5 linked regions of the Homo sapiens genome follow. The protein of the gene in region 4 interacts with the protein of the main gene of each other region in a pairwise test. Each region holds a gene or a part of one and is shown on either strand. Other genes may lie near its edges.

Evidence for each region.
Region 1: the proteins of DUSP26 (region 4) and GRIPAP1 interact in binary tests that used the Homo sapiens proteins (3 or more experiments, as listed by UniProt).
Region 2: the proteins of DUSP26 (region 4) and PTK7 interact in a two-hybrid assay, tested with the Homo sapiens proteins (one study listed by BioGRID and IntAct).
Region 3: the proteins of DUSP26 (region 4) and RET interact in a two-hybrid assay, tested with the Homo sapiens proteins (one study listed by BioGRID and IntAct).
Region 5: the proteins of DUSP26 (region 4) and CARD10 interact in binary tests that used the Homo sapiens proteins (3 or more experiments, as listed by UniProt).

What each region holds. Positions count from the first base shown.
Region 1 is NC_000023.11:48,981,765-48,987,849, reverse strand, and holds part of GRIPAP1 (GRIP1-associated protein 1), read left to right. Parts: coding exon 1-65; intron 66-2,447; coding exon 2,448-2,582; intron 2,583-3,979; coding exon 3,980-4,075; intron 4,076-4,409; coding exon 4,410-4,622; intron 4,623-4,757; coding exon 4,758-4,871; intron 4,872-5,977; coding exon 5,978-6,055; intron 6,056-6,085. UniProt on the Homo sapiens protein: Regulates the endosomal recycling back to the neuronal plasma membrane, possibly by connecting early and late recycling endosomal domains and promoting segregation of recycling endosomes from early endosomal membranes.
Region 2 is NC_000006.12:43,154,819-43,160,354, forward strand, and holds part of PTK7 (inactive tyrosine-protein kinase 7 isoform a precursor), read left to right. Parts: intron 1-3,998; coding exon 3,999-4,150; intron 4,151-4,969; coding exon 4,970-5,148; intron 5,149-5,536. UniProt on the Homo sapiens protein: Inactive tyrosine kinase involved in Wnt signaling pathway. Component of both the non-canonical (also known as the Wnt/planar cell polarity signaling) and the canonical Wnt signaling pathway.
Region 3 is NC_000010.11:43,124,278-43,130,362, forward strand, and holds the end of RET (proto-oncogene tyrosine-protein kinase receptor Ret isoform a precursor), read left to right. Parts: intron 1-605; coding exon 606-705; intron 706-2,297; coding exon 2,298-2,445; coding exon of another isoform or gene 2,446-2,477; exon of another isoform or gene 2,478-3,834; coding exon 3,835-3,992; 3' UTR 3,993-5,240; coding exon of another isoform or gene 5,241-5,374; 3' UTR 5,375-6,074; downstream 6,075-6,085. UniProt on the Homo sapiens protein: Receptor tyrosine-protein kinase involved in numerous cellular mechanisms including cell proliferation, neuronal navigation, cell migration, and cell differentiation in response to glia cell line-derived growth family factors (GDNF, NRTN, ARTN, PSPN and GDF15).
Region 4 is NC_000008.11:33,595,760-33,602,308, reverse strand, and holds the start of DUSP26 (dual specificity protein phosphatase 26), read left to right. Parts: upstream 1-2,285; 5' UTR 2,286-2,644; intron 2,645-4,549; exon of another isoform or gene 4,550-4,717; 5' UTR 4,718-4,793; coding exon 4,794-5,014; intron 5,015-6,549. UniProt on the Homo sapiens protein: Inactivates MAPK1 and MAPK3 which leads to dephosphorylation of heat shock factor protein 4 and a reduction in its DNA-binding activity. Inhibits MAP kinase p38 by dephosphorylating it and inhibits p38-mediated apoptosis in anaplastic thyroid cancer cells.
Region 5 is NC_000022.11:37,512,618-37,518,702, reverse strand, and holds part of CARD10 (caspase recruitment domain-containing protein 10), read left to right. Parts: intron 1-594; coding exon 595-732; intron 733-2,404; coding exon 2,405-2,730; intron 2,731-6,085. UniProt on the Homo sapiens protein: Scaffold protein that plays an important role in mediating the activation of NF-kappa-B via BCL10 or EGFR.

The sequences.
Region 1 (6,085 bases), on a different chromosome or scaffold from region 4:
AACAAGTGGAAGGGCTTTTGGCTGAGAACAATGCCTTGAGGACTAGCCTGGCTGCCCTGGAGCAGGTAAAGAACACCTGGGGGCCCTTGCTGATCCCTCTCCAGTTCCCCCATCTCCATCTGCTTCTGGTCCACATCAGGGTAGGGTGGTCTGGACCCCATGCTGTTCTCCTGTCTTTGTTTCTGTTGCTCCTTTCTGTTGGCGTCCAGCCCTCTTCTCTCTGGCCATCCATCCCTACTTTTTTTTTTTTTTAACTTTTAAAAATTTTATTGGGGAGGCTGAGGCAGGAGAATTGCTTGAACCAGGACCCAGGAGGCAGAGGTTTCAGTGAGCCGAGATCGCACCACTGTACTCCAGCCTGGGCGACAGAGCAATACTCTGTCTCAAAAAAAAAAAAAAAAAAAAAAGGGCGTGGTGGCTCATGCCTGTAATCCTAGCACTTTGGGAGGCCAAAGATGTGTGGATGGCCTGAGCTCAGTTCAAGACCAGCCTGGGCAACACGGTGAAACCCCATCTCTACTAAAATACAAAAAATTAGCTGGGTGTGGCGGTGTGTGCCTGTAATCCCAGCTACTCGGGAGGCTGAGACAGGAGAATCTCTTGAACCCAGGAGGCGGAGGTTGCAGTAAGCCGAGATCGTGCCATTGCACTCCAGCCTGGGCAACAGAGCGAGACTCCGTCTAAAAAAAAAAAAAAAAAAAAAGCCGGGCATGGTGGCTCAATTCTGTAATCCTAGCACTTTGGGAGGCCGAGGAGGGCGGATCACCTGAGGTCAGGAGTTCGAGACCAGCCTGACCAACATAGAGAAACCCCGTCTCTACTAAAAATACAAAATTAGCTGGGTGTGGTGGTGGGCACCTGTAATCCAAGCTACTCGGGAGGCTGAGGTGGGAGAATTGCTTGAGCCCAGGAGGTGGAGTGTGCGGTGAGCCGAGATCGTGCCATTGCACTCAAGCCTGGGCAACAAGAGTGAAACTCTGTCTCAAAAAAACAAAAAACAAAACGAAAAAAAACTTATTGGCCGGGCATGATGGCTCACACCTGTAATCCCAGCACTTTGGGAGGCAGAGGTGGGCGGATCACCTGACATCAGGAGTTTGAGACCAGCCTAGCCAACATGGCAAAACCTTGTCTCTACTAAAAATACAAAAATTAGGCCAGGCGCAGTGGCTCACGCCTATAATCCCAGCACTTTGGAAGGCTGAGACGGGCGGATCACCTGGGGTTCGGAGTTCGAGACCAGCCTGGCCAATATGGTGAAACCCCGTCTCTACTAAAAATACAAAAAAAAATAGCTGGGCATGGTGGCGCACACCTGTAATCCCAGCTACTCGGGAGGCTGAGGCAGGAGAATTGCTTGAACCTGGGAGGTGGAGGTTATAGTGAGCCGAGATTGTGCCACTGCACCCCAGCCTGGGTGACAGAGTGAGACTCCATCTCAAAAAAGAGAAAACAAAATTATTTTGTAGAGACAGGGTCTCACTATGTTACCCAGACTGGCTTAAACTTCTGGCCTCAAGCTATCTTCCCACCTCGGCCTTCCAAAGTGCTGGGATTATAGGTGTGAGCCACTGTGCTTGGCCTATCTCTGCTTTTTTTTTTTTTTGTAGACGGAGTTTCGGTCTTGTTGTCCAGGCTGGAGTGCTATGGCACGATCTCGGCTCACTGCAACCTCCGCCTCCCAGGTTCAAGCGATTCTCCTGCCTCAGCCCTCCCAAATAGCTGGGACTACAGCCGTGTGCCACCATGCCCAGCTAATTTTTGTATTTTTAGTAGAGACGGGGTTTCACCATCTTGGCCAGGCTGGTCTCGAACTCCTGACCTCATGATCCACCCGCCTCGGCCTCCCAGAGTGCTGGGATTACAGGCATGAGCCACCGCGCCCGGCTTCTGCTTTTCTTTGTTTCTAGTTTCTCTCTAGTAAAGTGCATGAAATGTACTAATCTTAAGTGTACACTCAGTGAATCCTCTCTTCGTCTCTCTCTTTTTTTTCTCTCTCTCTCCCCGCCACCATAGCCACCACCCAGATCAAAGTATAAAGCACTTTTAGTACCCCAGAAGGTCCCCTTTACCCCTTCAAAGTCAGTACTCCCCCAGAAGTAACCATTATTCTGATCTCTAGCAACATAAGATTCATTTCGCTTGTTCTTTAACTTCATATAAATGGAATCAGCTGCTCTTTGTCTCTGACTTCTTTCTGGCAGCACTATGTAAGTTTATCCACGTGGCAGCACAGATCTGTTCTCTTACTGTTGTGTGGTATTCCATTGTATGAACATACCACATTTACCCATTCTCTTCATTGTTTTTCTGTTTGAAATTTCCTCTCTCTTCCTGGTTCTCTTCCCACCTCCCTCCCTGTTTCCCTGGAACTAGGGGGCTCATACCCTGTCCCTGGCCCCTGGGGTCCCTTTCACTCTACTTCTCATCACCACTACTTTCTCCAGATCCAAACAGCAAAGACCCAAGAACTGAATATGCTCCGGGAACAGACCACTGGGCTGGCAGCTGAGTTGCAGCAGCAGCAGGCTGAGTACGAGGACCTTATGGGACAGAAAGATGACCTCAACTCCCAGCTCCAGGTAACACCTTTGGCTCTGGCCTGTCTCTTCCTAGTTCCCTAGTAATGGCCCAGTGAAGTCCCCAGTAAGGTGGAGTGGGAAGACTGGAGTCAGGAGGACCTAGGTTCCAGTCTGGCTCCCTAACTTATTAGCACCTGTGTGTTCTGGGACAAGTCATTTCACTTCTCTGAAACTGAGCCTCTTCAGTTAGTTAGGATATCAATTCTTTTTCATTTTTTAAATTTTAATTTAATTTAATTTTTTTTTGAGATGGAGTCTTGCTCTGTCACCTAGTCTGGAGTGCAGTGGCGTGATCTCGGCTCACTGCAAGCTCCGCCTCCCGTGTTCTCGCCATTCTCCTGCCTCAGCCTCCCGAGTAGCTGGGACTATAGGCGCCTGCCACCATGCCCAGCTAATTTTTTGTATTTTTAGTAGAGACGGGGTTTCACCGTGTTAACCAGGATGGTTTCGATCTCCTGACCTCGTGATCTGCCCGCCTCGGCCTCCCGAAGTGCTGGTATTACAGGCGTGAGCCACCACGCCCGGCTCCTTTTTTTTTTTTTTTTTTTTTTTTGAGATGGAGTCTCACTCTGTTGCCCAGGCTGGAGTGCAGTAGCGCGATCTCAGCTCACTGCAACCTCCGCCTCCTGGGTTCAAGCGATTCTCCTGCCTCAGCCTCCGGAGTAGCTGGGATTACAGGCGCCTGGCACCACGCCCAGCTAATTTTGTATTTTTAGTAGAGACGGGGTTTTACCATGTTGGTCAGGCTTCTCAAACTCCTGACCTCAGGAGATCTACCCGGCTCAGCCTCCCAAGCAATATCCATTCTGATTCCATAATAGAAACCAGAATAATAGTAGATTAAATAAGATACAAATTTAGTTCCCTCTCATTAAAAGTCCAGGTAGGTTATTCAGGGATGGAATGATGGCTTTCCAGTCATCTGTGACCCAGGTTCTTTCTCCATTGCTGTTCCTCCACCTTCAACACAAGACTTTTATCTTGGCATCCAAGACGGTTGCTGAAACTCCCCGACCATCATGTTTGTATTCTATCTGGAAGGAAGGAGGAAAGGGGCAGGGAAGAGTGTGCCCCTTTCCTTTAAGAGCATAACCTAAATTACACTCACCACTTCCACATACAGAAATAAATCACATGGCCACACCTAACCATAAGGGAGGAGGGGAAACATCTGCTAGACAGCTGTATGCCCGATGATAAATTTTATTGCTAGGGAAGTAAGGAAGAATGAATACTGGGGAGCAACTAGCAGTCTCTGCTATATTTCCTATCCAGAAATTGAGATCACAATACCAACTTTACCAGGGAGAAGGGAGATGGTCTACCAGATGGTCCTGGGTGACTAGCACCTACTGGATGCTCTTTATCAAACTCTTTCCCTTTGGTGTCTGCATTAGGAGTCATTACGGGCCAATAGTCGACTGCTGGAACAACTTCAAGAAATAGGGCAGGAGAAGGAGCAGTTGACCCAGGAATTACAGGAGGCTCGGAAGGTAGGGGAACATGAGGGTTGAAGGGAGAGGATGGGGGGTAGGAATTGGCTCAGTCCATGGGGATGGGAGGAGGTGATATAACCAAACATGTGGGGATAGGAGGGAAAGGAAAATTGACTGGTTTCTGGTTGACCAGTTTCTTGGCCAAATCCATGAGAGTGGGAGGGGAAAGAAAGAAAGTGACCAGTTCTATAAGGATGGGTGAGTGCCTTAGCCAGTTCAGTGGGGATGGGAGGGAGTGGAGTTTGGCTAGTTCCTTGGGCATGGGAAGAGGGTTGGAGGCCTTTTTTCGATGTTGTGGAAGGAAGTTGACTGCCATCGTCCTGGCCCCCAGAGTGCGGAGAAGCGGAAGGCCATGCTGGATGAGCTAGCAATGGAAACGCTGCAAGAGAAGTCCCAGCACAAGGAAGAGCTGGGAGCAGTTCGTCTACGGCATGAGAAGGAGGTGCTGGGGGTGCGTGCCCGCTATGAGCGTGAGCTCCGAGAGCTGCATGAAGACAAGAAGCGTCAGGAGGAGGAGCTCCGTGGGCAGATCCGGGAGGAGAAGGTGGGTGGGTAGATGATGATGCCCTTCTTCCTCTAAAACCTGGGAACCACAGCGTTGCTGATAGGCCAGTGGGTGGCATGCATCAGGTGCCCGCTCCTCTGCCTTCCTGGCCCATGACAGTCTGCCCCATCCCAGGCCCGGACACGGGAGCTGGAGACTCTCCAGCAGACAGTGGAAGAACTTCAAGCTCAGGTACATTCCATGGATGGAGCCAAGGGCTGGTTTGAACGGCGCTTGAAGGAAGCCGAGGTGAGTTGGTGATGCCTGGTGAGGAACAGAGGCTGATTGGGGCCCTCATGTCAAACCACAGAAGCAGGAGTGGTCAGGCCCTGGAACTTCCCGAGATTTTCTGGACTTAGGGATATCCCCACAGTCCCCTGGCTCAATAGCAGCCCTCTGGAGTGGATCAGGGGATGGCCATCAGATAGGACAGACTGTCACGTGTTAAGGCTGCCCTGCCTTTGTGCAAATTTGGAAAGGCACCTCTTTCTCCTGAAACTGTACTTCTGTCAGGAAATTAATGCAATACACTGATGTTATTGAACAAGAACCTGCTGGGTGCGGTGGCTCACGCCTGTAATCTCAGCACTTTGGAAGGCCGAGGTGGGCGGATCACTTGAGGTCAGGAGTTCAAGACCAGCCTGGCCAACATGGTGAAACCCTGTCTCTACTAAAAATACAAAAATTAGCCGGGCATGGTGGCTGGCGCCTGTAATTCCAGCTACTCAGGAGGCTGAGGCAGAAGAATCACTTGAACCCAGGAGGCAGAGGTCGCAGTGAGCTGATATCGTGTACTGTACTCCAGCCTGGGTGACGGAGTGAGACTCTGTCTCGGAAAAAGAACCTTTGTTGCCATTTTCTGGAAATCTCATAATACACTGAAAGGCATTGTCATGTAGCAGTGAAGAGCACAGGCTGGAGCCAGTTGTTTGTCTAGGTTTGAATCCTGGCTGGGCCATTTCCTAGCTGTGTGACCTTGGGCAAGTTATCTGACCTCTCTGTGGCCTGTTTTCATCAATGGTAAAAAGGGGGTAACAATAATATCTACCATCTAGGTATTACGGGAGGATTATAGAAAATGAGTTAATATATGTAAAACCCTTAGAACATTCTTGGCATGTAGTAAGCGCTATGTTTTGTTAAATAAAATAAAATGTAAATGCAAATCTAAGTCAACCATGCGAATGGTGCAACTTTAGATGTGACACTTCAGCATATTGCCTAAGGGCGTGTGGGGTTCCCTGCAGGAGGGTCATTTCTGCATACCTCTGGGCCCCCATTGCAGTCCCTCATACCCCTAACTGGGCATGATACCTTCTGGGGGGCTGTGGCCAGACCTGGGACTTGTCTTGTAGGAATCCCTGCAGCAGCAGCAGCAGGAACAAGAGGAAGCCCTCAAGCAGTGTCGGGAGCAGCACGCTGCCGAGCTGAAGGTGCCTCTCGCATGATGGTGTTCCTCTCTC
Region 2 (5,536 bases), on a different chromosome or scaffold from region 4:
TCAGTAGCCAGCAGCCCAACCTCTGTGCCCACTGGTGGGCAGACAGTCCATCAGCAGTGATGTGATTCAGAGAGGCGGCTGCAGTGGTAGGGAAGAGCCAGCCTTTGGCACTAGCCTCACCATGGGCCCCTCAATGAAGCCAAGGCTGGGCCCTGCCTCACAGTGCATGTGTGGAGAGAGGCAACCAGCCTTGTTTGGGGTGTGGCACACAGCAGGTGCTCACCAAATGGCCCTTCCCCTTCTCTGTGAATGGGTGGTTTCTTATTTGCACCAAGTAACCTGGCTGCAGCCCCCCATCAAGAGCCCTGCTTTGGCCAGCCCTGTTATATTCCACCAACATCCACTGTATATGGCACGTGGTAGATACTCAAATTTTTTTTTTTTTAAAGAGATAGGATCTCACAATGTTGCCCAGGCTGGCTTTGAACTCCTGGGCTCAAGCAATTCTCCTACCCCACCCTCTTGAGTAGCTGGGACTACAGGTGCCTGGCTTCAATTTATATTTGTTCAGTGCATTAATACATACTTTTAAAATGTTAATGTGGCTGGGTGTGGTGGCTCATGCCTGTAATCCCAGTGCTTTGGGAGCCGAGGCAGGTGGATCACGAGGTTAGGGGTTCGAGACCAGCCTGGCCAACATGGTGAAACTTCGTTTCTACTAGAAAAAATACAAAAGTTAGCTGGGCGTGGTGGTATGTGCCTGTAAACCCAGCTACTCGGGAGGTTGAGGCAGGAGAATCGCTTGAACCCGGGAGGCGGAGTGGAGGTTGCAGTGAGCCGAGATCAGGCCACTGCACTCCAGCCTGGCAACAGAACAAGACTCCATCAAAAAAAAAAAAAGTTAATGTAATTTAGTTACGTTTCATATATAGTGTATAATATAATATATTCACATTGGCTCAAAATTCTAAAAAGAGTATTAATGAATGAAAAATCTCCCCAACTCTTTCACTTTGGAAAAGAGTTGGGCATTATTTTGTATAGCTAGAGATATTCATATTCTAGACTTCGTCTTAGGTATCTTAGAGAAACTCATACATGTGTACACTTATAAAAGTGTTCATAATAACGCTGTTCTTAATAGCCCCAAACTGGAAACAACCCATTGGCATTAGAATTAAAGTATGAGGCCAGGCGTGGTGGCTCACGCCTGTAATCCCAGCACTTTGGGAGGCTGAGGCAGGCTGATCACTTGAGGTCAGGAATTCAAGACCAGCCTGACCAATGTGGTGAAACCCCATCTCTACTAAAAATACAAAAATTAGCTGGGTGTCATGGTGGGCACCTGTAATCCCAGCTGCTTGGGAGGCTGAGGCACGAGAGTCACTGGAACTTGGGAGGCAGAGGTTGCAGTGAGCTGAGGTCATGCCACTGTACTCCAGCCTGGGTGACAGAGCAATACCCTGTCTCAAAAAAAAAAAAAAAAAAAAAAAAAAGAATTAAAATATGAGATGTTTATAATGAAAAACAGACCATGTCCAGTGATTTAAAAAAATTAACCTGGCTGGCCCAGTGGCTCACACCTGTGATCCCAGCAGTTTGGGAGGCAGAGATGGAAGGATTGCTTGATCCCAGGAGTTTGAGACCAGCCTGAGCAACATAAGGAGACCCCCGTCTCTACAAAAAAATACAAAAATAAAAAAGGCTGGGATTGATGGTACACATTTTTGTCCCAGCTACACAGGAGGCTGAGTTGGGAGGATCACTTGAGTCCAGGAGGGCGAGGCTGCAGTGAACCGTGATCACCATCACTGTACTCCAGCCTGGGTGACAGAGTGAGACCCTATCTCAAAAAATAAAGGCCGGGCACAGTGGCTCATGTCTGTAATCCCAGCACTTGGGAGGCTGAGGAGGGTGGATCATGAGGACGAGATCGAGACCATCCTGGCCAACATGATGAAACCCCATCTCTACTGAAAATACAAAAATTAGCTAGGCGTGGTAGTGCGCGCCTGTAATCCCAGCTACTTGGGAGGCTGAGGCAGGAGAATCACTTGAACCCAGCGGGGTGGAGTTTGCAGTGAGCCGAGATCGCACCACTGCCCTCCAGCGTGGGTGACAAGAGCGAGACTTGGTCTCAAAACAAGCAAACAAACAAAAGAATCTTACAATGTTGTGAAAAAAAAAAAAAATCCAGGCACAAAAGAGTATACATTTTGTGTGCTTCCAGTTTTAATCTGGCTCTGAAACAGGCAAAATGGAATTATATTATCTAGGAACATGTAAGTGGTAAACTACAAAGAACAAGAAAGAAATTATCACAAAAGTCAGGGTAGTGGTTACTCCTTGAGGGGAGGGAGAACATATGGTTGGGAAGGAACTCTTGAGTGCTAGCATTGTTGGATTGTGGTTTTTTTTTTTTTTTCCCACAAAAAAATGTAAGCCAGAAGTTTTCTTACCTTTCTACCTTCTAGCCTCCAGTTCCGTTCCTTGGAGGCAGCCAGTCATATGGGTCTATATGCCTTAACACATACACACACGTGCGTGCACACACACAGACACACACGCTATATATATATATATATATATATATATATATATATATATTTTTTTTTTTCTTTTTTTTTTTTTTTTTTTAATAGAGTCTCACTATGTTGCCCAGACTGGTCACAAACTCCTGAGGTTAAGCAGTCCTCCTGCCTCAGCCTCCCAAAGTGCTGGGATTACAGGCATGAGTCACCATGCCCAGCATACACACACATATTTTTAACACAACTAGTAGAAAAGATAGACTTTTGAAGTAAAATGAAAAAGAAACAACCCATAAAGATATCATCTAAGATCAGGCATGGTGCCACTCACCTGAAATCCCAGTGCTTTGGGAAGCTAAGGCAGGAGGATCGCTTGAGGTTAGATATTTGAGACCAGCCTGGGCAACGTAGCTAGACACCGTCTCTACCAAAGAAATATATATATATATTTTTTGAGATGGAGTTTTGCTCTTATTGCCCAGGCTGGAGTGCAATGGCGCAATCTCGGCTCACCACAACCTCCGCCTGCTGGGTTCAAGCGATTCTTCTGCCTCAGCCTCCCCAGTAGCTGGGATTATAGGCATGTGCCACCACACCCAGCTAATTTTTGTATTTTTAGTAGTGCTGGGTTTATCCACGTTGATCAGGCTGGTCTCGAACTCCCAATCTCAGGTGATCCACCTGCCTTGGTAAAGAATTTTTTTTTTTAATTAAAAAGTAAGCTGGGGGCTGGGCGCAGTGGCTCATGCCTGTAATCCCAGCACTTTGGAAGGCCGAGGCGGGCGGATCACAAGGTCAGGAGATCGAGACCATCCTGGCTAACATGGTGAAACCTCGTCTCTACTAAAAATACAAAAAAATTAGCTGGGCGTAGTGGCAGGCACCTGTAATCCCAGCTACTCGGGAGGCTGAGTCAGGAGAATGGCGTGAACCCGGGAGGCAGAGCTTGAAGTGAGCCGAGATCATGCCACTGCACTCCAGCCTGGGCAACAGAGCAAGACTCCGTCTCAAAAGAAAAAAAAAAAAAGTAAGCTGGGCATGGTGATGCACAGCTATAGTCCTAGCTACTTGGAAGGCTGAGGTGGGAGGATTGCTTGAGCCCAGGAGTTTAGAGGCTGCAGTGAGCTGTGATCATGTCACTGCACTCTAGCCTGGGTGACAGAGCAAGACCCTGTCACTTGAAAATAAAAAATATCAGCTATGATTTCTGCCCACTTATTTTTCACTGGACAAGTGGTTACTATGTATGTGCCCTTAGGCCCATGTGCCACTCACTTAATCTGGCACTTGCTGTGTGTCAGCATGGTGTCAGGCACTTTAGTTTGCTTAGTTCAGTCTTCTAACAACCCAGGAAGGCAGGTACTGTTATTATCCCCATTTTACAGAGAAGGAAGCTGAGGCTGTTGTGCTTCTGGGCTTCCTACGCAGCACACCAATAGTGTTGAAACGCTACCAAGGGTTGTGTTGAGGGTGGTCATCTTGATGCCTATTCCTGGGCTGCTCTAACAGGCCCCTTTATCTCTCCAGGTGGCCCTATGCACCCAGGTAGCCCTGGGCATGGAGCACCTGTCCAACAACCGCTTTGTGCATAAGGACTTGGCTGCGCGTAACTGCCTGGTCAGTGCCCAGAGACAAGTGAAGGTGTCTGCCCTGGGCCTCAGCAAGGATGTGTACAACAGGTAGAAGGGCATGCGTGGGGTGGGGGCTCCCCATTTTTTCCCAGAGGGTGAGGGGCAGAGGACAGATAGTTTGGGGGGTGTGGGAAAGGGTTTAGTGCCTGCTTAGTCCAAAGCTGGAGGGCCTGGGATAGGGAAGAGCTTTCTCATCCTTTTTCCAAGGGTGCAGCAGGCTTCCCACCCAGTGCACACCCTTGGTGGTTGTAAAATGTCTCTAGCGATTAAATAAATAAATAAACCTTTTTTAAAAAATAGGCAAATTTGATAAGGATTTATATATAATCTATTTATATGGCTCTCTCTGTAACTTCCTGAATTCAGTCATTATTATTTTGAAGTCTGAGACTTATGCCTCAGCACCCATGCCAGAGCTTGCTCTAGACAGCCTACGAGGGCTCTGCAGCGCTGCCGGGAACATCACCCTGAGTCCCTCTGGTTCCAGGTCACCCCCATTTGTCTGACTATAGCTGTAGTGAGGATTGGTTTATCACTAATAAAGCTCTTTCCATTTAACAGTTCTTAGTTTTTACATTTTTACAACCAATATAGAAAGTATGTATGACTATTAACTTTTCTGTTAACATTTAGGCAAAGTTTGATTCTTAATGGAAATTTTTTAACCATCAAACCTCTCGTGTGGTTACCTCCAGATTTTGTCTAGTGTACTCCCATGCTCAGCACGCATGTGACCAATTTCTTGATGTCTGTATGTAGAAAGGCTGGGCCCCCGGCTTGGGGATGCGTTCCAGATGGGGAGATGAGGGTGCAGCGCCAGGCCACGCTCCCACCCCACCTCACCCCTGGGTTGCTTCTCTCCTGCAGTGAGTACTACCACTTCCGCCAGGCCTGGGTGCCGCTGCGCTGGATGTCCCCCGAGGCCATCCTGGAGGGTGACTTCTCTACCAAGTCTGATGTCTGGGCCTTCGGTGTGCTGATGTGGGAAGTGTTTACACATGGAGAGATGCCCCATGGTGGGCAGGCAGATGATGAAGTACTGGCAGGTAGGCAGCCTTGCTGCTAGGGGATGATTCCAGATGGGCCCCAGATGGGGCCTACTCAGGGCCCCAGGGCTGGTTCAGCCTACCTCCCTCTCAGGGCTGCTACTGAGCAGGCACACAGATACAACCACTCTGGTTGTTAAAATACTGCAATACTTTGTTTTTCTTTTGAGACGGAGTGTCGCCCTGTCGCCCAGACTGGAGTGCAGTGGCCCGATCTCCGTTCACTGCAACTTCTGCCTCCTGGGTTCAAGCGATTCTCCTGCCTTAGACTCCCTAGTAGCTGGGATTACAGGCACGCACCTCCACTCCCTGGCTAATTTTTGTATTTTTAGTAGAGATGGGGGGGCTTCACCATGTTGGTCAGGCTGGTCTCAAACTCCTGACCTTG
Region 3 (6,085 bases), on a different chromosome or scaffold from region 4:
AGATGCATGGTACATGCATTCCACAGAGTGTGCACACTGCTGGGGCGTGGAGGGGGCATGCTGGGCCGAGAAGCCAGGTACCACCTCCCTGGGCCCCCAGCTGGTGGCCAGCTGGAGCGCTGTGGTCTGCCTGGGCACCCAGGCAAGCAAGGACGGTGCAGGACAGACGTGTGATTGCCAAAGGTTCTTGTTTGTCTGTCTCCACACCTAAAAGCCCTCAATCAATTCATTCTTCTTGAGAGTTTTAAGGACTGGCACTTCTCACTTAGCTGCCAGAGCAAGCATAGTATCCAGTGAGCTGTTTACCAGTGTCTTTGCAAGGGAAGTAAAAATGAATCTCCCTTGGAGGGAAGGGAAGCTTGTAGGATTCTGGACCACAGCTCTGAGAGACCTGAGCACAGTGGCCCACGGGCTGGGATCCTGCAACAGGCCATGCCCCAGTCCCACGAGGCTCAGAGATGTCAGCGATGCAGAAATAGCTTTGGAGTTGGAGACAGAGCACACTGGGCCCAGGGTACAGGGCAGGGTGCGATGGCTGTGGTGGGCTGTCCTTCTGAGACCTGGCCCTGCTTGGATCATATTGGCCTGTCTGCTCTTCCCACCAGGTACCGCCTGATGCTGCAATGCTGGAAGCAGGAGCCGGACAAAAGGCCGGTGTTTGCGGACATCAGCAAAGACCTGGAGAAGATGATGGTTAAGAGGAGAGTGAGTGCCTGGGTCCAATTCCCACAAGCTGAAAGTGGCTTGGGGAGACTCCAGCCTCACCCCAGGGCAGTAGTTTTAGCCCTCAGAGTTCCCAGTGTGGGGCCACAGTGGGATTGTGCAGAGAGAGAGAGTCATGCTCTCCCCTGCATGCAGACAGCAGATTGAACCCTTCTCAGGCCAGGCCGCTTGGGCTTCTTTTCAAGTCATGAAGAAACCAAGATTCTTGACATTTAGGAAAAGCTCTCTACAGACAGGCATGGGAGGAAAATATTCCAAAGCCAAAAAGAAATAGTTTTCCATAATGGAAAATGAGAAAGTTGAGTTAAAGCAAGTGCCCAAAATTCAGATGCCCAGAGGGGGGTCCGGCTGGAGGAGGGCAGTGAGTAAGGAGCAGTGGAGACTGTGGCAAACAGCCAGCCCCCTCCAAAGGGTTCCTTGCTGGAGTACCTGTGGCCTGCAGAAAAAGGAGCCAGGAATGGGCTGGGTCTTCTGAATTTTATGAGGTTTATGTTGTCTCCCAGTTTTTATTGTTAACAATTCATTTAAATTTCCCAGAGCCGAACGCAGGCCAAACAAAGCATATCGGGGGGTGGCCAGAGTCAGCCTGTGTGCCTGGAAGTACAGTTTGTGAGGTCTACACATTTTCAACCAATATTCATCAGGCAGCTGCTAGGACCCATACTATGTCTCAGAGGCTGGGAATGCAGATAAACAAGACCAGCACAGCCCTGCCCTCACGGGGTTTACACACAGGCCTTGTCTTAACATTGGCACATTTACTGAGTTGTCACTTCTTCCGACTTGGATAGCGGGATGCAGGACCTAGGACCCCATAGGAAAACTTCACATCACTGTCTCGCTTGGATGAAAACTTCAAGTCCTGAGAATGCAGCGTTGTTCAAAACAGAAGCGATCACTGGTGCTGGCCTTCCTAGAACAGTGCTGAGAAACAGCCGGGAAAACGCTGGGCCCCTCTGTGCACATTCAAGCTGGGCATTGAAAGGAGCAGACGCCAGTGGCCCCTCGTGCTGGGGAGCCCGTGCCTGTAGCAGGGTCCTGTGCACCCTGACAGCGCTGTCAGATTTCAGAACTCAGCCCTGACGTGACGTTCTAGATGGCAGGGGTCCTTGGGGAAAGCTGGAAAACATCCTGCAGGCTGGGGCTGCGTCCTGGCATGTGGCTGCAGTGGGCTCCCCCAGAGCCCAAGGGTTTGTCAGCGGGCTGGTTCCGTGCTGCCCATCTCCGGGTTGGGCCAGGGGCAGCTAGATGAGGCGTCCCCCAAGGCTGCCCTCCAGGCCCTGGAGATAAGACGCTGAGGGAGCACATTTCTTTCCCCAGGGAGGTGACTTTCCAGGGGAAGAGACAGAATAGACAACACCCAGGGGAGTGATGGGGACCTCAGAGCAGGACCAGGCCAGCCAGGAGTCCTGGGAGCTCTATGCAGCCTGGCCCTGGTCTCTTGGAGAGGTCAGGAGATTGGTGCGAGGTGGAGACACAGCCAGAGCCTCTGCCCTGAGGATGGCTTGTTGTATACTGAGTTGTATCTAGTTGTGGCACATGGCTTGGAGTGACCGGCCATCTCTGTCTTCCAGGACTACTTGGACCTTGCGGCGTCCACTCCATCTGACTCCCTGATTTATGACGACGGCCTCTCAGAGGAGGAGACACCGCTGGTGGACTGTAATAATGCCCCCCTCCCTCGAGCCCTCCCTTCCACATGGATTGAAAACAAACTCTATGGTAGAATTTCCCATGCATTTACTAGATTCTAGCACCGCTGTCCCCTTTGCACTATCCTTCCTCTCTGTGATGCTTTTTAAAAATGTTTCTGGTCTGAACAAAACCAAAGTCTGCTCTGAACCTTTTTATTTGTAAATGTCTGACTTTGCATCCAGTTTACATTTAGGCATTATTGCAACTATGTTTTTCTAAAAGGATGTGAAAATAAGTGTAATTACCACATTGCCCAGCAACTTAGGATGGTAGAGGAAAAAACAGATCAGGGCGGAACTCTCAGGGGAGACCAAGAACAGGTTGAATAAGGCGCTTCTGGGGTGGGAATCAAGTCATAGTACTTCTACTTTAACTAAGTGGATAAATATACAAATCTGGGGAGGTATTCAGTTGAGAAAGGAGCCACCAGCACCACTCAGCCTGCACTGGGAGCACAGCCAGGTTCCCCCAGACCCCTCCTGGGCAGGCAGGTGCCTCTCAGAGGCCACCCGGCACTGGCGAGCAGCCACTGGCCAAGCCTCAGCCCCAGTCCCAGCCACATGTCCTCCATCAGGGGTAGCGAGGTTGCAGGAGCTGGCTGGCCCTGGGAGGACGCACCCCCACTGCTGTTTTCACATCCTTTCCCTTACCCACCTTCAGGACGGTTGTCACTTATGAAGTCAGTGCTAAAGCTGGAGCAGTTGCTTTTTGAAAGAACATGGTCTGTGGTGCTGTGGTCTTACAATGGACAGTAAATATGGTTCTTGCCAAAACTCCTTCTTTTGTCTTTGATTAAATACTAGAAATTTTTTCTGTTTCCTAACTTCATCATTGATTGTTTGAAATCTTGGAGTTTCAAGCATTTTTTTCAAGCTGAGACGGTTCCTTTTGCATGCCTCCTGACTCACTGACTCCTCACTGGCTTTGTGTCTAGTGCCACACTCCATTTGTGCTGACGATGCTATGAGGCTGGCCCGTGTGCACCCTCGATTTGGAAGGTCCTCTTCTCCGTTGTAGGCTCAGACAACAGACGAGTGCCTCCTTTACGTTAGAGAATGTTTTATAGAACGTTTCCGCTGCAGTAAGCCATTGAGTGCAGCAGTGTGCTGTTGCCCTACACTGCCTTAGAAAAAGAGTTAAGCAGTTCGACAAATATACATCAGATTAGAGAGTCTCAAGTTCATAAAAGTCAAAATTGGTAGTGTCTGTTAAGTTACATTTACCAAGAGAGCACATGATATTTCCCCTAACTATAACAGTGTTTTTGGAAACCTGGAACACAAAACCATTAATATAATTGGCACAGAAACCACGAGTTTGGTTTGAACATCAAAGGGAGTTTTGCCAAGGCCTTACTGTCTGCACTTGAAGTTTTGGTTCTTCAGTGCAGAACAAATGATCTGTTTTCATTTTTAGGCATGTCAGACCCGAACTGGCCTGGAGAGAGTCCTGTACCACTCACGAGAGCTGATGGCACTAACACTGGGTTTCCAAGATATCCAAATGATAGTGTATATGCTAACTGGATGCTTTCACCCTCAGCGGCAAAATTAATGGACACGTTTGATAGTTAACATTTCTTTGTGAAAGGTAATGGACTCACAAGGGGAAGAAACATGCTGAGAATGGAAAGTCTACCGGCCCTTTCTTTGTGAACGTCACATTGGCCGAGCCGTGTTCAGTTCCCAGGTGGCAGACTCGTTTTTGGTAGTTTGTTTTAACTTCCAAGGTGGTTTTACTTCTGATAGCCGGTGATTTTCCCTCCTAGCAGACATGCCACACCGGGTAAGAGCTCTGAGTCTTAGTGGTTAAGCATTCCTTTCTCTTCAGTGCCCAGCAGCACCCAGTGTTGGTCTGTGTCCATCAGTGACCACCAACATTCTGTGTTCACATGTGTGGGTCCAACACTTACTACCTGGTGTATGAAATTGGACCTGAACTGTTGGATTTTTCTAGTTGCCGCCAAACAAGGCAAAAAAATTTAAACATGAAGCACACACACAAAAAAGGCAGTAGGAAAAATGCTGGCCCTGATGACCTGTCCTTATTCAGAATGAGAGACTGCGGGGGGGGCCTGGGGGTAGTGTCAATGCCCCTCCAGGGCTGGAGGGGAAGAGGGGCCCCGAGGATGGGCCTGGGCTCAGCATTCGAGATCTTGAGAATGATTTTTTTTAAATCATGCAACCTTTCCTTAGGAAGACATTTGGTTTTCATCATGATTAAGATGATTCCTAGATTTAGCACAATGGAGAGATTCCATGCCATCTTTACTATGTGGATGGTGGTATCAGGGAAGAGGGCTCACAAGACACATTTGTCCCCCGGGCCCACCACATCATCCTCACGTGTTCGGTACTGAGCAGCCACTACCCCTGATGAGAACAGTATGAAGAAAGGGGGCTGTTGGAGTCCCAGAATTGCTGACAGCAGAGGCTTTGCTGCTGTGAATCCCACCTGCCACCAGCCTGCAGCACACCCCACAGCCAAGTAGAGGCGAAAGCAGTGGCTCATCCTACCTGTTAGGAGCAGGTAGGGCTTGTACTCACTTTAATTTGAATCTTATCAACTTACTCATAAAGGGACAGGCTAGCTAGCTGTGTTAGAAGTAGCAATGACAATGACCAAGGACTGCTACACCTCTGATTACAATTCTGATGTGAAAAAGATGGTGTTTGGCTCTTATAGAGCCTGTGTGAAAGGCCCATGGATCAGCTCTTCCTGTGTTTGTAATTTAATGCTGCTACAAGATGTTTCTGTTTCTTAGATTCTGACCATGACTCATAAGCTTCTTGTCATTCTTCATTGCTTGTTTGTGGTCACAGATGCACAACACTCCTCCAGTCTTGTGGGGGCAGCTTTTGGGAAGTCTCAGCAGCTCTTCTGGCTGTGTTGTCAGCACTGTAACTTCGCAGAAAAGAGTCGGATTACCAAAACACTGCCTGCTCTTCAGACTTAAAGCACTGATAGGACTTAAAATAGTCTCATTCAAATACTGTATTTTATATAGGCATTTCACAAAAACAGCAAAATTGTGGCATTTTGTGAGGCCAAGGCTTGGATGCGTGTGTAATAGAGCCTTGTGGTGTGTGCGCACACACCCAGAGGGAGAGTTTGAAAAATGCTTATTGGACACGTAACCTGGCTCTAATTTGGGCTGTTTTTCAGATACACTGTGATAAGTTCTTTTACAAATATCTATAGACATGGTAAACTTTTGGTTTTCAGATATGCTTAATGATAGTCTTACTAAATGCAGAAATAAGAATAAACTTTCTCAAATTATTAAAAATGCCTACACAGTAAGTGTGAATTGCTGCAACAGGTTTGTTCTCAGGAGGGTAAGAACTCCAGGTCTAAACAGCTGACCCAGTGATGGGGAATTTATCCTTGACCAATTTATCCTTGACCAATAACCTAATTGTCTATTCCTGAGTTATAAAAGTCCCCATCCTTATTAGCTCTACTGGAATTTTCATACACGTAAATGCAGAAGTTACTAAGTATTAAGTATTACTGAGTATTAAGTAGTAATCTGTCAGTTATTAAAATTTGTAAAATCTATTTATGAAAGGTCATTAAACCAGATCATGTTCCTTTTTTTGTAATCAAGGTGACTAAGAAAATCAGTTGTGTAAATAAAATCATGTATCATAAAATGTGTAAACTT
Region 4 (6,549 bases):
CTCACGGATATGTCAGTCCCCAGGTAATTTCTATAATTACCCATAAACAGCTGTACACATTGTCTGTGGTGTACTTTAAACTGTATTTTCCCCGCTTTTTGAAAAAAGTGTAATGCAGGGTTGAAACAGAGGTCTTGTCAAAGATTGAGATCAGCTTTACCTACAACATCCTCTCAACCTACCAATCTTGAAGACTTTTCACTTAAAATGACATTGATCTTCACCTGAGGTCGGGAGTTCGAGACCAGCTTGGCCAACATGGAGAAACCCTGTCTCTACTAAAAAATACCAAATTAGCCAGGCATGGTGGCACATGCCTGTAATCCCAGCTACTTGAGAGGCTGAGGCAGGAGAATCGCTTGAACCCGGGAGGTGGAGGTTGCGGTGAGCTGACATTGCACCATTGCACTCCAGCCTGGGCAAAAAGAGCAAAACTCCGTCTCAAACAAACAAACAAAAAAAAGATATTGATCTTGTAAGTGCTCTTTCACAATTCCTTTTATGATAATGTTTTAACTAGGTTTGCAAATTAAATCCAAATTTTAATTTGGATGCGCAAATTAAAATCTCAAATTTCTCAGGTCAATTCCTTGGGGTTTTTTGTTGTTTGTTTGATTGTTTATTTTCGCTTTTGTTTGTTTGTTGAGAGGGAGCCTCGCTCTGTCGCTCAGGCTGGAGTGCAGTGGCATGATCTCAGCTCATTACAACCTCCACCTTCCATGTTCAAGTGATTCTCCCACCTCAGCTTCCCAAGTAGCTGGGACTACAGGCGCCTGCCACCACACCCGGCTAATTTTTGTTTTTTAGTAGAGATGGGGTTTCACCATGTTGGCCAGGCTGGTCTCGAACTCCTGACCTCAGGTGATCTGCCCACCCTGGCCTCCCAAAGTGCTGGGATTACAGGTGTGAGCCACCATGCCCTGCCTCTTTGTTTTAAATGACAAGGATTTCATTTCATATTTAAACTGCTGTAACACAAGGGACAAGGAAAAGTGAAAAGAATTTTGTTTCTCTAGAGAAAAAAAAAGGCTAGGCGGTACATTAAACTTGGATGGCAGCCTGTCATGGAACCTGGGGATTGGTCACATTGGCCAGTACTTTCTCTAACCCAGAGATCAAAACCTGATCTGCCACCACTGCTGGGAATGGAGTCAGTCCTGGTTTCAGCTATAGCTGACACCATCAGCTTCAATCTGAGCCAATCTACTTTCTGCCTTTCTTCTAGTAGACAGCGAGAGTTCAAGCCAGCCTAGTTCTCAACAGCATCATCTGCTAACATTTATCATCTCCCCCACTTCCCTCTCACACAATAAGGTAGGCACTGGGGAAGGTAGCACAGTCCCTGCCTTCAAAGTGCTTACAATCTTGGTGCTTACAATAAAAATGCCGATCAAGTGAATATGTCACTAGAAGGCAGCACATGAGAAATTAATATGAAGATGGCCGGACACAGTGGCTCATGCCTGTAATCTGAGCACTTTGAGAGAAGGTGGGTGGATCACCTGAGGTCAGGAGTTCAAGACCAGCCTGGTCAACATGGTGAAACCCCATCTGTACTAAAAAACAAACAAACAAAGAAAAAATATATACAAAAAATTAGCCAGGCATGGAGGCGGGCGCCTGTAATCCCAGCTACTTGGGAAGCTGAGGCAGGAGAATGGCTTGAACCTGGGAGGCGGGTTACAATGAGCCAAGATTGCGCCACTGCACTCCAGCCTGGGCGACAGAGTGGGACTGCATCTCAAAAAAGAAAGAAAGAAATATGAAGATGAATGTTTTGAGAGTCTGGGGAAAGTGAAGTTCACTATGAGCTGAGCTGGTGGAAATGGCTTCCTGAATGAAGGAAATCCATGGTGCCTTCTCCATTTTGTGGGAGGCACTGGTTTAGAGAGTGGTTAAGGACATAAACTGCAAAGCCAGGCTGCATTGTTTGAACAAGCTCAGCTCTGCCAGTAACGAGCTGTGTGACCAGGGCAGAGTACCTAGCCTCTCTGTGCCTAGGTCGCCTCCTCCCTAAAATTAGGACAATAGTAATTATGTCTCCCTCATAGACTTGTGGGGAGTATAAAATGCCTTAAGCTAAATGAAGCACATGGCATATAATGAAGGCTAATGGGGGCTTCGGACCATTGTTCTTTATGACACGGTTTCTTGAGACCGAGGCATGTACAAGCCAGTGCACAGAATCGTGTCTATGTAATTAGTTAATTCTGTCTGGGAGGAGTGTGTGTGTTTAAGACAGTGCCTGGGATGACTTATAATGTAATCTTTAGGCAAAACGCTTTGTAATTGGTGCAGCTCTGAGAACACACGCATGCATTCCAGGCGGTGCTGCTGGGGCTCGGCGGGGCCGTGTCTGGTCTGCAAGGCGCGCGGGCTCGTGGGGGGTTGGCTGGGGAGCCCACGCTGCCTGGCGACTCGGGCCACCGAATGTGAGACCGAGTCCCTTTATGTCACCAGCGCACACGCTGATTTGAACCCTGCTTCGACGTGTGTGTCATGGCTTAAAAATAGCTGCTAATCTGTCAACCTGTCTTGGGCAGAAACAGCGGCGGCGACAGCAGCAGGAGCGTCATGGCCGTGGCGCTGTCTGCGCCGGCGATCCGCCTTTCGGACTGAGGCCCAGCGCAGCGCTTGCAAAGAGGTAGAGGGGCTGCGGCGGGCCTTCGCCTTTTCAGCTGGCTCTCCACGCTGGGGAGAGGCGCCCAGCTAGGGGCGACGGGGGAGGGAGGGGACCGGGAAGCGGGCACCCGAGCCCAGCGAGCCAGCCTCTCTCTCCCGGGCGCCCTCCCTCCGCGCGCGGGGCCCGGCTGCCAGGCTGGCGAGGACTGGGGCGACAGCCATGGACCTGTTACAAAGGCGACCGCAGGCGGAGGGAGGGAGCGGCGGGCCAGGGCCCCTGGAGCCGACGGATGGGATTGGAGAATGCCCAGGGCTGTATCCCTGGACAGAAAGGGGCTTCTGCATCCCCCGGGAAAAACAGCCCCACGGAGATCCTTCTTAGACCTGGGCTCCTTCACGCTTCCCCCATCCCATTCATCATCTCGTAGACAGCAGACTCTCTAAGAGGAAAGGTTGTATTGCAATACAGTAATGGGGTCTTTAGGCCTGGGTGCAAAGGTAGAAGAAGATGATGGTGATAGTGATGGTGGTGATGGTGGTAGTGATGATGGTGATGGTGGTGGTGATGATGGCTGTAGTGCTATATTTCTGTGCTCCTTCCGGACCCAGCCATTGAAAACTCTCTCTCCCTAAACTCCCTAACATCCAATCTTCCCTCACCAATCCTGGTCCTAAAACCCCTGCTTCTAATGCCTTGTAAGTGCTTGGTTTCTCTTGGCACTGGAGCAAGGGAGAGCTGGGCCCTGTCTAGGGGTGTGAGATGGGGACAGAGCATGGGCAGGGACAAAGATGGCCTCTCACTGCTGGTCATAGAGTTGAAGTCCCCCTGGCAGGAGGCCAGGAAGGGAGTGGAAGGGGATTCTGCAGGCTCCAGGACCTCCTGCTTTCAAACAGGCAGGACCACAGGTGTGAGAGGATGGGGAGGGAGGGGGAAGGGGCCTTGCCATTGTTGCCTCCCTGCCTGAAGGTCCCAGGGCAAGCCTCAAACGCTGGTCCTTCCCAGCTCTGCAGCTCAACAGGTAATCTGAGACACACCTGCTAAGCCCCTCGTTATTGACCTCGTGTTTTGTAGGGTCACTTGACTCCAACAGCCATACGGTTGGTAATTCTAAGCCTCTGAGCCCCTGGACCTGGCAGGATCCCTCATTTTTCCCTTTCCTTCCTGCTTTCTAGGCCCCCACCACCCACCCCTGTCCCCCCTCCCCTCAAGACACACACAGACAAAACACTCCAACCCTGCGTCAATTCCCCCACCATCCACCTCTGTCACCCTCCCCTCAAGACACACACAGACAAAACACTCCAACCCTGCTTAGATTCAGAAATTCTCACATTAGAGCTGAGATCTGATCAGTAATTTCCTAATGCTGATCCAAGGAGGGTGGTTTGCCTGTTGTGCACATAGATTGGTGCCTTCTTCCATAAGCTCATGCATTCAGCAAGTATTTATTTTTTGCAAACTTACTCTTCCTCTTTATTGCTATTCTCCACTCACCCCATCCCACCCCCACCACACCCTTCCCATAGCAGGTTTATCTCTGAGGCAGTGGCAGGTCACGAAGGGGTTAAAGTCTAACTCTGGCACAGAGATGGCAGGCCTGACATGTGTCATGGCCTCAGCTGCTGTTGTCTCCCTGCTAATTCTCTTTGGATGGGTCTAAAGGTACCCCCAACCCCATCCCAGCTCCCTAGGCTCTCTGCCGATAGCCCCAGGCAGATGAGACTCAGATTCCAGCTGGCAAGATCCCCAGCAGTGGGGACAACCACCCAAGTGCCGTGTGTGTGTGTGTGTGTGTGTGTGTGTATGCGTGCTGGCAGTGGGGGTGGGGTGATGAAGCTGAAACCTAGCAGCTGGGCAGCTCCCTCTCCCCGTAAACAAGGACATGTGACTCTCCCACCTCGTTTCGTGGCAGAGCCAAAGAGCTGAGCAAAAGGAGCTGCTGCAGCTTGAAGAAAAAGCCACCCCTGAAGGCTCCTGCCAGAGCCAGGCTTACCTTCTCTCCCTCGAGAATCTTCTCCCGAAGGACCAGCCCAGGGAAGGGAAGCAGCTGCTCTGGACTCACTCAAGTGTGTCTCACACCCCTTCCTCTTCCAGCAGCAGCTACCTGGCAACTGAACCCATCATCACCACAGCCACTCCTGCAGCTGCCACGGTTTCTGCCACCTCTAAGATGTGCCCTGGTAACTGGCTTTGGGCTTCTATGACTTTTATGGCCCGCTTCTCCCGGAGTAGCTCAAGGTCTCCTGTTCGAACTCGAGGGACCCTGGAGGAGATGCCAACCGTTCAACATCCTTTCCTCAATGTCTTCGAGTTGGAGCGGCTCCTCTACACAGGCAAGACAGCCTGTAACCATGCCGACGAGGTCTGGCCAGGCCTCTATCTCGGAGACCAGTATGTATCGGGCAGACTGGGCCCACGGTAGAGCGTGTGTGTGTTTGTGTGTGTAAGAAAGGAGAAGGGTGGCAGACAGGTATGCAGTGGTGTCATTGGTTCCTGGTTGAAGATTGAGGGGATAGGGCACATGGGCCAAGAGTAGAGGCTGCAGGTTTGGGAGAGTTTGGCCAGGATTATTGAAATGCCCAACTCTGGCCAGTCACAGTGTCTCTTGCCTGTGATCCCAGCAGTTTGAAAGGCTGAGGCAGGAGTATCTAGAGTACAGGAGTTCTAGACCAGCCTGAGCAACAAAACCAGACCCCATCTCTACTTATTATTTTAAAATAAAATAAATAAAATAAAAATACCCAAGTCTGGACAGAAAGACTCTGTTCCAGTAATAATATCATTCATGTATCACATATTTATTATTACATGCCAGTGCTACATACCAGGCACAATAGATGACTTCTCTGACCTTCCATCTATTGTGCAATGTCTCTGGGAAAAGGCAGCCACTGGAAGCCAGGAGCAGTAGGTAGGAAGCTGCAGTGGTTTCTCTTGAGACCAAGCAAAGCGGCAGTGCCTACAGAGATTCTGCAATTTGAAGGCTATGGAGAGAAAAACATCAAAGGAAGAGCCATCCCCACTTCTCTCCCTCAAAGTTATACAAGGATTTCTTTTGCTTCTTTGGTTTGTTTTGGTTTTGGTTTCTTTCTTTTATTTTTTTTTGGAGACAGTATCACTCTGTCACCCAGGCTGGAGTGCAGTGGCGCGATCTTGGTTCTCTGCAACCTCCACCTCCCGGGTTCAAGCGATTCTCCTGCCTCAGCCTCCAGAGTAGCTGGGACTACAGGCACACACCGCCTTGCCCGGCTAATTATTTTTTTGTATTTTAGTAGAGACGGGGTTTCACCGTGTTGCCCAGGCTGGTCTTGAGCTCCTGAGCTCAGGCAGTCCACCTGTCTCGGCCTCTCAAAGTGCTAGGATTATAGGTGTGAGCCACCGTGCCCAGCATTGTTGTTGTTTTTGAGACAGGGTCTCACTGTTGCCCAGGCTGGAGTGCAGTAGCCCAATCTCAGCTCACAGCAAACTCCGCCTCCCGGGTTCAAGCAATTCTCCTGCCTCTGCCTCCCAAGTAGCTGGGCTTACAGACGCCCATCACCACACACAGCTGATTTTTGTATTTTTAGTAGAGACGGCGTCTAGCCATGTTGGCCAGGCTGATTTTGAACTCCTGGCCTCAAGTGATCCACCTGCTTCAGCCTCCCAAAGTGCTGGGATTACAAGCATGAGCCACCGTGCCTGGCCTACAAGGATTTTTTTCACACACATTATCTCTCTTAATCTTCACAACAGCCCTGTGAGATAGGTATCACTCTCCCTGGGTTACAGATGAGGAGACTGAAGCTCAGAGAAGTTGTGCCTGGCCAAGGTCACACGGGTTGTAAGTAGCAGAGCCCGGGCTTGGAGGCTCAAGTTCAGTGCTCTTTCTGCTTAAGGAGTTTGCACTGGACAGGGCAACTCAGTTTGCCCTGAGATATGACTGTGGT
Region 5 (6,085 bases), on a different chromosome or scaffold from region 4:
AGGTTGGATGTGGCTGCCAGGGCCGGCTGGGCCTGGGACCTCCCGGTCACAGCCGGTGGACTTGGCACCTTTCCTGCGCTCTTTGATCTCCGAGTTCTGTCTGTCCCCTCCTCTGTGCACCATACACTCCTGGGGGAGTCCTTTTTCAAGTGTCAAGATCCGTCTCAGCTTTACGTGGGTCCCCACTCCCACAGGGTGTGCCTTTGAACCAGAACTCAAAAAGGCATGATGGAATGGTCTTTAATGGTGGAATTTCAGGCATGGCCAATGGGAGAAGTATTTTCTTTGCTTCTGGGGATAGAGGGGGCTTCTCTGTGCCATTGAAAAGGCAGGCTGCATTTGCGGGCCGGCATCTGTGTCTGTGGGGGGTGTTGGGGAGCTCTGGGAGCCCAGGAGTCATGAGGGAATGTGCTCCCCTGGCTGTGGCAGAATGGCTCTCTTCTCTTCCCTGATGTGTTGGGACAGGCCCCTGTGTGTGTCACTGGCTCAAAAATCTGGGGAACGTGGGCCTGGAGCATGGTGGGGGCAGAAGCAACCAGGCACCTGGGGAGGCCTTCCCCTAGACCCTGGGTACATCCCCCCACTACTCTGTAGGGCGCCTGATGGACATCTTGCGCTGCCGTGGCAAGAGGGGCTATGAGGCCTTCCTGGAAGCCCTGGAGTTCTACTACCCCGAACACTTCACGCTGCTCACGGGCCAGGAACCCGCCCAGCGCTGCTCCATGATCCTCGGTGAGTGGATCTGCGGTGGATGCTGGCACCTCGGACTCCAGTGCACAGGCTCCTTTCCCCATCCCTGTTAGGGAGGCGCTCCCACTATGCCTGTTGAACAGTAAGGGAAACTGAGGCATGGAGAGGCTGAAGGGGCTTGCCCAGGGCCCCACGGTAGGCTGAGGGTGGGGCTGGGTGCTAGTGCCGTTATTCCAAGTTCAGAGCCACATGCTTAAGATGGCTCTTTCTTCGTGATACTGTTTTCAGACATATGTCTGACATACACAGATGTATAGTTTTTTATGTAAAAAAATACAGAGGCTCCAGGTGACTTTGAATTTTTTTTTTTTTGAGACAGTGTCTTGCTCTGTCACCAGGCTGGAGTGCAGTGGCGCGATCTCAGCTCACTGCAACCTCCGCCTCCCAGGTTCAAGCGATTCTCCTGCCTCAGCCTCCCGAGTAGCTGGGATTACAGGCATGGGCCACCACGCCCTGCTAATTTTTGTATTTTTATTTTTAATAGAGATGGGGTTTCATCATGTTGGCCAGGATGGTCTTGATTTCCTGACCTTGTGATCCGCCTGCCTCGGCCTCCCAGAGTGCTGGGATTACAGGCGTGAGCCACTGCGCCTAGCTGAATTTTTTTATATAAAAAACACAAACACATACACACACGCACACACGCCTACGTGTGTATTTTGCTTTTTCTTAGAACAACTGATTTTAGTGATTCTTTCACCTCTGTTACATACACTTGTTTTAAGTGACTGCATACTGTTCATTAGTGAAGTTAGGACATAATTCATTTAACCCATTTCCAGTTGATGGATACCTAGGTTTCCAGTTTTGTATTATTACAACGATACGGGAACATCCTTGTATGTGCGTCTTTGTGCAAATGTGTCTCAGGCGAAGAGGTTCTGAGAAGAATTTCTCAAAGAGTCTGTGTATTTTAACTGTTAAATCAACATACCTCCTACCAGGAATGTGTAAGGGCCCATTTGAATCCTGGGGATCATGTTTAAACGTTTTTACCATTCTGATATGTAAAAAATAATGTTATTGTTTTAAGTTTATATTTCATTGAGTGATACAGTTCACAGGTTACTAGTTATTAAACCTTGGGTAAATAACTGCTCTGTGCTTCAGTTTTTCTGTCTTTAAGATGGGTACAATAATAGTACCTACCTTACAGTGTTGTCATAAAGATTAAGATATATCTAGCACAAAGAATGAAGTTAACAAATATTAGTAGCTACTGTAATTATTGTTGATAGGTTGGTGCATATTTTCCTGTATTTATTAACTATTTTTATTTTGGGACTTGCCTATTGATAGTTTTTGTCCATATTTTTATTTGGTTGTTGATCTTATTGATTTGTAGGAGCTCTTTATATATTACGGCTCTGAGTTCTTGTTATATTTTCTCCCACTCTGTTGCTTATTAACTTTGTTACATCTTTCATTTTTCAAAGGTTTAAACATTTTTATATGGATTTGTCCATCTTTTTTCTCTTATAACTCCTGGATTTTGTGTGTTGTTTAGGAAGACCTCCCCTGCTCCCAATTCTACAAATATATTCCAGAATTTCCCTCTAGTGTTTTTATGGTTTGAGTTTTTTGACACAGTATGTTATCTCCTGGATTTTACTTGCCTGAGCTGCCTATTCTGTCCCCTGTTCTGTCCTGGCAGATGAGGAGGGGCCTGAGGGCCTGACCCAATTCTTGATGACAGAGGTGCGACGGCTGCGGGAAGCTCGCAAGAGCCAGCTGCAGCGGGAGCAGCAACTGCAGGCCCGGGGCCGGGTGCTCGAGGAGGAGCGGGCAGGGCTGGAGCAGCGGCTGCGGGACCAGCAGCAGGCTCAGGAGCGCTGTCAACGGCTGCGGGAGGACTGGGAGGCGGGCAGCCTGGAGCTGCTGCGGCTCAAGGATGAGAACTACATGATCGCCATGCGCCTGGCACAGCTCAGTGAGGAGAAGAACTCGGCTGTACTTCGCAGCCGTGACCTGCAGCTGGCGGTAGGCCCTGGGGAGATGGGTCGGGGAGGCAAGGGAAGGGGCAGCTTTTGCAATGTAGTAGCCAGCCAGCCTGTGTCCCAGAGCCACCATTGCTGGCTCTTTGACGTGGATAAGTCCTTTTAGTGCTCGGTGTACCTACTTCATTGGGTTATGACTGTGGTTCTCAATGGGGGGTGATTCTGACCCCCTAGAAACATCTGGCCATGTCTAGGAAATATTTCTGGTTGTCACAATTAGTGGGGATTTATTGGCATCTGGTGTGTAGAGGCCAGGGATGCTGTCAAACGCCCTGCAGGGCACAGGACAGTCCCCAGCAAAGAATTACCTAGCCTAAAACATCGGTAGGGCCGGGGCCAAGAAACACTGGGTTATGAGGATTTGATAAGTTGTTTTTTTTTTTTTTTTTTTTGAGATGGAGTCTCACCCTTGTTGCCCAGGCTGGAGTGCAGTGGTGTGATCTCGGCTCCTTGCAGCCTCTGCCTCCCGGGTTCCAGCGATTCTCCTGCCTCAGCTTCCCGGGTAGCTGGGATTACAGGCTCGTGCCACCACACCCAGCTAATTTTTGTATTTTTAGTAGAGATGGGGTTTCACCATGTTGACCCGGCTGGTCTCGAACTCCTGACCTCAGGTGATCTGCCCGCCTCGGCCTCCCAAAGTGCTGGGATTACAGGCGTGAGCCACCGTACCTGGCCCGGTGAGTTTAAGACACAGTTTCAAACATGTACAGTCCCTAGCACACTGCTCACAACTTGTGTCATCAGTAGCCATTGTTGATATTATTATCAAGAGACACATAGGTTAAACATCATGTCTTCTAATCCTCACCAAAGCACCATACGCCAAGCCCTCATTTGCAAATACAGACTCTGAGACTCAGATTAGTGAAAGGACTTGCTCAAGGTCACAGAGCCAGGAAGCGGCACAGCCTGGATTTGAACCGGGTCCGGCTGGCTCCAGTGCCAGCCCCCTTCCCACGCTGCTGTTCCGCCTACTCCCTGTGTGGGGAAGTCTCACCTGACTCCCTCCAGCAGCAAGTGAGGCTGTGCCTCCTACTGCATCTCACTTTCTTGGTTTCTGACTGGGACTCAGCAGGGGGATAATACCAGTATTTGACTGCCACAGGGCGTTGTTCCAAGGATTTAATGAGCTGATCCACGTCAAGGGCTTAGCAGTGCAGGCCGCACGGCACGCAGGAGGCTCTCTCCAGCCATGTTGCTCGAGGCTGCACAGTGGGTTCTGACCGTGGAGTTTGAAGCCTCCCTACCCCAGGAGCCTTGGGCCGTGGCTACAGCATTGCAGGTGGCTGTGAGGCTGTAGATGTGGGTGCACTGGTGTGCCAGTCCTCGGTTTGTGCACGCCAGGTGGGTCGATATCTTGGGGAGGTGAGCCCTGATGGGGGTGTTGAGGCCACCAGTTGAAGGGTCCAGGCTGCTGGTCCTGCTTGAGGATGTAGGTGGCTGGTTTGAGGTTGTGAGATGACCTTGAGGCTATCGTTCGAGGGCCTGGTTGGTGTGTGGCAGGAGACGGAGGCTTTCTGAGGAGTGATGGGCAGGGACAGGGACATGTCCCAGGCCTGCTCTACTGTGAAAAACCATGTGGCATGGGGAAGGCTTTCCTTTCTGTGCCTCAGTTTCCTCATCCTCATCACAGATAAGGATGATGTAACAATTATAAAACGGCCTTGTGCTTTATAGATACCATCCTCAGTGCTTGCCATGCACAGACCCCTTTAATTTTCCAGCCACCCTACGCTGGGGTGGACAACACTATCTTCCCCATTTCTAGAGGAGGAAACTGAGGCACAGAGAAGTTGGTTAGAGCACTTTCCCAATGTCCTGGGATTGAAGGAATTTTTTTTTTTTTTTTTTTGAGATGGAGTCTTGCTTTGTTACCCAGGCTTGAGTGCAGTGGTGAGATCTTTGCTCACTGCAACCTCTGCCTCCCACGTTCAAGCGATTCTCCTGCCTCAGCCTCCTGAGTAGCTGGGATTACAGGTGTGTGCCACCATGCCTGGCTAATTTTTTTTTTGTATTTTTAGTAGAGATGGGGTTTCACCATGTTAGCCAGGCTGGTGTCAAACTCCTGACCTCAGGCGATCTGCCCGCCTCAGCCTCCCAAAGTGCTGGATTACAGGCATGAGCCACTGTGTTCAGCCGGATTGAAGGATTTCTGAGTTGGCTCTCAGCACTGCTGAGGGGCGGTGGCTGGCAGGTAGGAGTGCTCCCCTTTCTTTACCCAGAGGGCTTCCCCTTTTTTCTGAAACAGACATGGGGCTTGCTGTAGGGTTTTCTCAGAAGAAATAATTTACTGCTTAGAGAGGACGGCGTGAGGGCTGCAGGCTGGGGGTACTGGGAGGGGCTGCAGCCCTCACGGCTTGTCCCACCTTTGGGTTGGGTGTGATGCGATTGGGAGATGTCCTGCGTGTGTGGCCATCTGGGGGCTGCTGGGACAGGGGAGGGGGATGGAAAAGAGATGGTCGGAGGTGCCTCTGTAGTCTGCAGGTCATCTGCCTCTACGCAGAGTGGCTGCTTTTTCCTATTTTAGGGACCTAAGAAGTGAAATTGGCCAGGCGCAGTGGCTCATGCCTGTAATCCCAGCACTTTGGGAGGCTGAGGCGGGTGGATCATGAGGTCAGAAGATTGAGACCATCCCGGCTAACGTGGTGAAACCCCGTCTGTACTAAAAATACAAAAAATTAGCCGGGCGTGGTGGCATGCACCTGTGGTCTCAGGGACTCGGGAGGCTGAGGCAGGAGAATTGCTTGAACCCGGGAGGTGGAGGTTGCAGTGAGTCAAGATTGAGCCACTGCACTCCAGCTTGGGCGACACAGCGAGACTCTGTCTCAAAAAACAACAACAAAAAAAGAAGTGAAATTAAACTTAGCTACTATAAATTTACCTTAATTTATAATTTATGTTTGGAGCTTTTCTGCTCCAAAATTAACAAAGGTGTTGCAGATGGATCTGAACAGAGCACCTGATCGTGCCTGGCTTGGCGGCTTGCATCCCCACCTCCCATAGGCAGGTGTGTGGCGGCTGGGATTTAATACCCTGTTTTATAAGGTGCAAATTTAATGAGCTGTTATTTCTAAGCAACATAAACTGAAGGAACGAACGCTATAATTTTGTGCTCAGTGAGTTTGTACGCCGGGATTAAATGCATCCGTATTTCCTGTTGCTCGTCGGAGACTCCCAGGTGTCCTGTCCTCTGAGCTCATCAGGGAAGCCGGCTGGCCAGGGGTCAGGCAGGAGGCCCTGGTGTGTGGCTGCGGTTTGCTGAGAGGGTGTGACCACAGTTGTCCTTGTAACGAGCTGTCTTTCTCTGGCTGTTCACAAAGCATGTTTTGTGAGTGGAA